2 linked regions of the Homo sapiens genome follow. The protein of the gene in region 1 interacts with the protein of each later gene in a pairwise test. Each region holds a gene or a part of one and is shown on either strand. Other genes may lie near its edges.

Region 1 (3,899 bases):
GCCTCCCAAAGTGCTGGGATTACAGGCATGAGCCACCGAGCCCGGCCTTAACGTGTCTATTGATGTCACAGAAAAGAGACCCGAACGCCGCCCTCCAGAGCCAGACCCGTAGCCCTCCAGTGGCCAGGGGGTCTGAGAGACCAGAAGAGAGACCCAGGGCGAGGGGAGGCCGGAGGTGGAGCCAAGCTTTTGAGCAGGCAGCCAGGTAGGCTTCCTGGAAGAGGCAATATTGAAGCTGGGTTTTGAAGGATGTATAGGAGCTTGAGGTATTCTAATATCTGCCATCAGTAGCTGCTTGCTATGTTTTGGATATTAATAAAGATCATCTAGGCTTCATAGCAACTCAGGACCAGGGGCATCTACTGAGAGGAAATGGTGCTTTGGAGAGACTGGACATTTGTCCTGGGGCATGCTGTGAGCCCCCACCTCAGTCTGATGTCAGGATTTGAACTCTGGATGTTGGACTGAGTTCCTGCCACTGTCTCCAAGGGACAGGAAGGAAACACACCGGGGGTGCCGTGTGACTGAGCCCTCTGTGTGCCAGGGAGGGATGGCACCTGGACCACCTTACAAACCTCCCATCCAGAAAGACCCTAATCCCGGAGCTTGGGAGGGTGCGACACTGCCCCGGGACCTCCCTGAGGGATGCAGCCTGGGAGGCATGCAGGGCGCAGAGAGGGGGTGGTGGGGCTGCTCTCTCCTCAGCCCACAGCCCTCAGCCTAGGGCCGCCAAACCTGTCCCACCCTTTACCCATTAGGTGAACACACCCCAGGACCCAGCAGCCTGGATCCCCTGCATATGCCTGGACACGCACCCAGACACAGCGTACACCCTGCGCACAACACACACACCGCGCGCAGGTCCAGCCGCGGCTCCAGCCCGACCAATCGCGCCCACGATCTGCTCCTCCCGCGGACGCGCAGGGGCTGAGTCCGACACGCGCCGCGGCAGAGACGGCCGATCGCGACCGCGCGCCTCGCTCCCCTCCCCCACCTCCCCGGCCCCGCGGGCGGCGCCGGCTGTGATCTCATCCCCTGAATTATCGATCGGGCTCCGGGCAGCCTCGCCCCTCCCTCCCTCCCCACCTGCCAGCGCGTCCCGGCCCCTCCCTTTGTTCCCGGCAATCAGCCCTGCTTGGGGCGGGGCAGGTGCAGGGGAGCTCCAGCCAAGTCGGGCCAGGAGGCTGGGTCCCGGGGTGACAGTGACACCCCGTTTTCTGGTGCAGAAGGAACCGACCCTTGAGGCCAGGGAAGGTGCGGCCGGTCTCGGAGAGGTTGAGGCTGGGGATGGAGCGACCGGCCTGGGAGGCTGAGGCCCAGAGCTCAGATGAGCTGGTGCGGGACTGGGCTCCCCAGAAGTGAGGGAAGAAGGGCCGCGACCCTCCAGCCCGCTCCCCTGAGTTACAGCCGGAGAAACTGAGGCCGGGACAGGCCGCAGAGCAGGGGCCCGGCTCCGCTCCTAGCCCCGCCCCCCCCCCCCACCCCCGAGCCGGCACTCCTGGGTTTGAGCTTCGTCTGTGAGCCCTCGGCCGCGCCCCTTCCCCTCCCCGCGCCTCAGTTTCCCCACTAAGAAATAGGGGTGACCCTAAGGTACCTTCTAGCTGCAACAACGGAGAGGGAGGGGCTGACCTTAGGGTCTGGGGTTCTCTTTTCCCTGGCCGCGCCTCCCGGGGCCTCAGTTTCCCCACTAGGAAATAGGGGAAAGAAGGGATGTGGAATTTCTAAGCTTCTCCAGCTCGGTCCTTCTGCGAACTTGGGCGGCGGGCGGGGGTGGGGGGCGCAGCGGGGAGGGTCGCTGACGGGGTTCTGGGTTCAAAGCCCCGTCCCGCCTTGGCTGCGGGTTCCAGGCCAGCGCCCGGTGTCCTCGGAGGGCCTCAGTTTCCCCAGCCTCGCGGCCAGGCTCCGGGACGAGGAGGGCCGGGGTCCCAGGGGCGCAGCCCCCCGCGGCTGCGCGCTGGGCCGGGCGGATGACATCACCGGGCCGGGGGGCGGGAGGGAGCGGGCGGAGCGGGAGGGCTTCCTCCGCGCCAGGCGCAGCGCCCGGTCGGGCTCCGTCGGGCGGCCGCGGCCATGACGCAGGGTCCGGGCGGGCGCGCGCCCCCGGCGCCCCCCGCGCCCCCCGAGCCCGAGGCGCCCACCACCTTCTGCGCGTTGCTGCCCCGAATGCCGCAGTGGAAGTTCGCGGCCCCGGGCGGCTTCCTGGGCCGCGGCCCGGCGGCGGCGCGGGCGGCTGGGGCCTCGGGGGGCGCGGACCCCCAACCCGAGCCGGCGGGCCCGGGGGGCGTCCCGGCGCTGGCGGCCGCCGTCCTGGGCGCCTGCGAGCCCCGCTGCGCCGCGCCCTGTCCCCTGCCCGCGCTCAGCCGCTGTCGGGGCGCGGGGTCGCGGGGGTCGCGGGGCGGGCGGGGGGCGGCGGGGTCCGGGGACGCCGCCGCCGCCGCCGAGTGGATCCGGAAGGGCAGCTTCATCCACAAACCCGCGCACGGCTGGCTACACCCCGACGCCAGGGTCCTGGGGCCCGGGGTCTCCTACGTCGTGCGGGTGAGTCCCCCCCACCCCCCCCGGGAGCCCGTTCGCGGCGGCCTCCCCTCCCCCACCCTCTCCTCCGGGACCCCCGGACCCCGCGAGCCAGGTGTCCCCTCCCCATCCTTCCTGCTCTCCCGCCACCCCGGACCCCCATCCCCGGCCGGCGGCCGGCGGCTGCCCCCACCCGGAGGCGCTGGGGTCCGGGTTCCCACGGCGTCACGTGGGGAGGGGCGGGGAGAGGGCGGCGGGGGAGGGGCGCGCATGCGCAGGTGCACCGCCCCCCACTCGGACTGGGCGGGCGAGGCCGAGAGCGGCGAGCGGCCGGGGCGTCTCTGCCACCGGAGCCCCCCGGACAGCTGTTCACGAATGACAGACGGGGCCCGAGACGCTGGCCTGCGGTGGGGGTGCGGGAAGGGGTGTTTGGAAAGGGGCTGGCGCCCGGACAGACCCCAGGATTCCAGATGGGAGGCAGCAGGGACTTCCAGGGCGGCCAAGGAAGCGGCCTTTGTTTATTTACCTTGGGTCTTATGATAAATGAACCTTTTCAAACACACGGGGAAGTCGGGCGCCTGGACACAGCACGCCTCCACCTAGGAGGGTAACCTTCCCCTCTGCTGACGGGTCTGCCCCTCTCTGTGGTTTATAGTAAACCGTGTGAAGTCACCTGCAGGGGTGACAGCGCCGTGCATAGTCCCCCGTCTTCTGAGAGAGCAGCTGTCCTACAGCTGCAGTCATTACGGCGTCTGGGAAAATGATCAGCCACTCCCGCACGCCACTACCGGTGGGTGCTCCCAGCTCCTCCCGGCCTCTGCGGCCAGGAACATTAGCCTGTGTTCACATTGGGTTGTGTCTTTGCTTTTCTGGACACTGAGTTCAGTAGGGTCCTTCCCTCTACACTGAGTTGAGAAGGGTCCTTCCCCTTACACTGAGTTCAGTGGGGTCCTTCCCCCTACGCTGAGTTCAGTGGGGTCCTTCCCCCTACGCTGAGTTCAGTAGGGTCCTTCCCTCTACACTGAGTTGAGAAGGGTCCTTCCCCCTACGCTGGGTTCAGTGGGGTCCTTCCCCCTACGCTGAGTTGAGAGGGGTCCTTCCCCCTACGCTGGGTTCAGTGGGGTCCTTCCCCCTACGCTGGGTTCAGTGGGGTCCTTCCCCCTACGCTGGCTTCAGTGGGGTCCTTCCCCCTACGCTGGCTTCAGTGGGGTCCTTCCCCCTACGCTGGGTTCAGTGGGGTCCTTCCCCCTACGCTGGCTTCAGTGGGGTCCTTCCCCCTACACCGAGTTGAGAGGGGTCCTTCCCCCTACGCTGGGTTCAGTGGGGTCCTTCCCCCTACGCTGGGTTCAGTGGGGTCCTTCCCCCTACACCGAGTTGAGAAGGGT
Region 2 (3,899 bases), on another chromosome or scaffold:
AATTATATTTTAATACAAGTGACTTTTCAAAACAAAAAATGTATTTGTGAAATAGAAAATACAACATTTTATTTAATATAGTTATGTTAGCACCTTTCCCAACCTACAGTGAGTTCTCAGAAGTTACCACTTCGCCCTGTCTCCGGGTTTAGTAGTTTCTCCAATCTAATTGGAACTATTACTTGTTACTTGGAAACTGACGGTCTAGTTAGTCTTCCCACTGAGAAAGAATATTTAATTATTACTGCTTTTTGGGTTTAACAAGCTTTTTGTTGTTGTTGTTGTTGTACTACGCTCCATCCTATTGACTTTTCTTCCCGGGAATCATTGCAATGACTTATTTTATATTACTATATTTTATTTCATATTTTACCTTTTCTCCACGATGCTTAAAAGAAAGGCGCTCCGAAATCTGGCTCTCTGCGCCCAGGGGAACGAGGCACAAATCTCCGCCACTCAGCCCCACTGAGCAGAGACTGCGAGTCCGAACCCTCAAGTTCCTCGGGGCTTTGACCCCTCAATGGCGGCGGTCTAACTGCTGGTAAAACCCCCGGCCCCTGACTGTTCCACCGCCCGTCTCCCAAACGCCCAGCGAAGGCTGACTTAGGTGGCGGGCGGACCTCATCGATTCCTCAAACCACATCGTTTGGTCAAAATCGCCCGCCCTCTCTTCGCTCGGATTTTAAAGGCTAGGCTTGTAAGTCAGTAAGTTAACGGTATTTGGGCCCTGGGCTGCCCTTGTGGGTCAGGGTCACTGATGTCCGCGACACGGACTGGACCGCGCACCACGCCTGCTCCCGGCAGAGGCCCCACCCGGGTGGCTGAGCGCAGCGCACTGGGGCCCCGCGGTCCGAGAGCGGCGGGGAGGAGCGGGCGCTCGCCGAGCGTTCCCCGGGACAGTCCGGCTTGGGGACTCAAGCGGGTCATGGGATGCCGGCGCTGGCCCTCTCCTGAGATCCTCCTGCTCCCCCGCAGGCACGAGTCCCCTCCAAATCGGCTCCCCTCCTACACTCTCGTGACGCGAGGTCGCGGCCAGTGCCCAATATCACCAAAGTCCCGGCCTCAGCCCAGCCCCGGGCAGCCTGGCAGGCTTTCAGGAGCCTCTGCTCCCGGCTCCGGGGGACCCTGCGTACCTGCCCCAGGTCCTCTGGGAATGGGCTCTGGGTGCCAGGCAGGTCCCGGTGCGTGCTGCTCCTAGTGCCCAGGGCCTCGGCAGTGAGACCCCAACCCGACAGCTGGATAAGGGATCAGCGATCCTGTCGCAAACGGACAGCCCCAGCGCGGACCCGGTCTGAGCGCTGATGCTCGCGGGTCCAGGCCAGCCACTCCTCGAGGCGCTCCCTCGGAGAAAGGGCGCAGCGGCCCCAAGCGTGCCCGCTGCAACTAGTGTCCCAGGTTCTCGCCGTAGCCAGCTTCTCCGGGCTACAGCCTCGTCTCCCCGCGTGCACCCCGCCCTGGCCTCGGAGGCTCTGCCCTCCGGCCGCCCCATCGCAGCCCGCCTCAGGCCCCGGCCCCCAGCCGCGCCTCACCTGTGAGAAGCAGACAGCTGAGCAGCGCGCACAGCAGGACCCCGGTGTCCCAGTAGCTGACCATGGTGAGCGCGACGCGGCCTGCTCGCCCGGTGCCCGCGCTCCCCGCGGCCAACGACCCGGCCGCCAGAGTCCGTCCTCTCGTTCGCCGCCGCCGGCCCCGCGCCCTGAGCGCCCGTCTCGCGGCTCCAGCCAGGAGACAACCACTTCCCCGGGTAATCCTCGCCGCCAGGCGCCCGCTGGCCGCTGCACCCGAGCCCCGGAGCCCGCTCCGAGCCGCCGCCGCTGCCGGGGAGGAGCCGAGAGGAGTGTCCGCCTGGCGCGCTCCGAGCCTCCCGCGGACCTCGATGAAGAGCAGCCGAGGGCGGGGGCGATTTATAACCTTTCCCCAGCCCACTTCCTACCCCGGCACCTCCTTCTGGTGACGTCAAGGGGTCCCCCACCCCTCATCCGCCTCCCCACCTACCCTCTTCTTCCTCCCAGGCTCGCTTCCCTGCGGCTACGGAGAGGGGCGGGGGCCGACGAGGGCGGGTGGCCCGGGGCCGAGCGCGCGTGGGGAGGTGCTGGCGACGCGGGCCCGGGAGCGCGGCCCCGGCAGGTTCAGGGTCTTTGCTCCGCGCCCTCTTGCCCTTGCCCCTCCTCCTGCCCATCGCGCTCAGGAAATCCTTGCAGACTCCCTCCACCCGGCTTACTCAGCTCTGGGGGCCGCCCGAAACTGGGGAAGGGACAAGGCTGAAGCTCCGCCGCCTGGCCCTAGGGGCGGAAAGTCCGATCCAAGGGAAGCTGGCCGCGCCTCCGCGACGGTGTTCTTGGCACGGAGGACTGAGGCGCAGTCCGGCTGTCTCCCCTTGCCTGCTCTTCCCGCGCTGTCCCGCCGCTCCTGACCCCTTCAGACTGTCCCGAGAAGTCTAGGAAGGCACCGGAGACCCTCGGCACAAGGCACTGAACCTGGAGCGCCTGAGGGGAACTGACGCTTGCTTGGCACCTTTGGGAAGACTGCGAACCAGCTCAGGTCCCAGGGGAGCGTGTCCGTGTCTTTTTCGGCCGCATTGATGCACCCGCCCAAGTCATTTCCTCAGTCTTCTGCTTCCTAGAAGCAAAACAAGGAATAACATTATGATACCTTTAAAAAGCTGAGGCGTGAAACTGCTCCTGCAACTTGGAAGCGCAGGGCACTTGAACTTTATTCCCTAAATGCTCGAAAAAGAAATCTTTCTGGTGGCAGCTTGCTACTCAAGATGAGTGACTCTGACCACAACCGGCTGAAATTAACTTGAGGCCCTAGATCATTTGCTATGACACTAATTCCACGTTGTTCCTCAATTATGTCTCCATTACCTCAAAGGCTGAAGTCGTCCTGGCTGCACGGAGCAGCCCAGTCTTGTCTCTGTAAATACCGCAGATTTGAAAAATAGTCCTATTGGAACCCGTCAGAGGGATGTAATACAAGGGACTGTGATGGCTCTTGAACGGAGCCAGAGACTCTTCCTGAAGGACTGGACTACCTCCCCGCCTAGGAAGGTTGGGTAACCCAAAGTTGCCACATTTCTGGGCTGCACACCAAGGAGAGGCCCCGGCCACTCCACACAGGAAATGCACGTCTGGGCACCTGGAGCCGCAGGACCTGAGCCACTAACTGTCCCTGGATCCCTTCTGCTTCAGAGGCAAGGAAGACTGCCGGAGTCATTGCTTGCCTGCTGGCTTCACCAGCGCTTTCTGTTTTTCCAGTTCTCCTCACCACTCTTCCTGGCGCCTTTCTCTGCCTCCCGCACCCCTGCCTCCTCTAAAACCCACAGCATCATCCCTCAGAACAGCTGGAAGCGGACAGCTGATCCTTCTCCTTGCTGGTCCCCCAGCCCAGAACACAGCCTGGGACATACGTGCGGAGCCACAGTGTCTGTTGGTCTCACCTGAGAGCTGCTTGTCACTCCCACACCCTCTTTCAAGGAGAAGCTGTCAGCATTGTCCTTCTGCAGCATTCAACAGGGGCCAGGCATTGGGTTAGGGCTGAAAACACTGATGGAGAGCCATCATCTTTGCCTTCTAAAGGGCTTGGACTGTGATAAGAAGGTGGACACTTGAAGTGGCTGCAGGACCGGCATTCCAGTGCTGGAGGGGTGTTTAGTCCTCCATCAGCTCAGAGAAGTAAAGGCACATTTATTGGCAGGGAAAACCCAAGGAGGGCTTCTCAGGAGAGACACACATTTGACTCTGGGGGAAAGTGGTCCATAGTACCATGTACAAAGGTTTAATTTGCTAATACATTTTTTCAAATGCCATTTTGATATTTTTAACTCATAAAGAGACAACACTTTCCAAACCTGCTGCCAGCAATGAATCTACATTGTGTCTGTAAAGCCAGAACAGGTA

Evidence for each region.
Region 2: the proteins of SHC2 (region 1) and FLT1 interact in a two-hybrid assay, tested with the Homo sapiens proteins (2 studies listed by BioGRID).

The regions. Positions count from the first base shown.
Region 1 is NC_000019.10:459,168-463,066, reverse strand, and holds the start of SHC2 (SHC-transforming protein 2), read left to right. Parts: upstream 1-2,033; 5' UTR 2,034-2,070; coding exon 2,071-2,538; intron 2,539-3,899. UniProt on the Homo sapiens protein: Signaling adapter that couples activated growth factor receptors to signaling pathway in neurons. Involved in the signal transduction pathways of neurotrophin-activated Trk receptors in cortical neurons.
Region 2 is NC_000013.11:28,493,251-28,497,149, forward strand, and holds the start of FLT1 (vascular endothelial growth factor receptor 1 isoform 1 precursor), read right to left. Parts: upstream 1,879-3,899; 5' UTR 1,594-1,878; coding exon 1,530-1,593; intron 1-1,529. UniProt on the Homo sapiens protein: Tyrosine-protein kinase that acts as a cell-surface receptor for VEGFA, VEGFB and PGF, and plays an essential role in the development of embryonic vasculature, the regulation of angiogenesis, cell survival, cell migration, macrophage function, chemotaxis, and cancer cell invasion.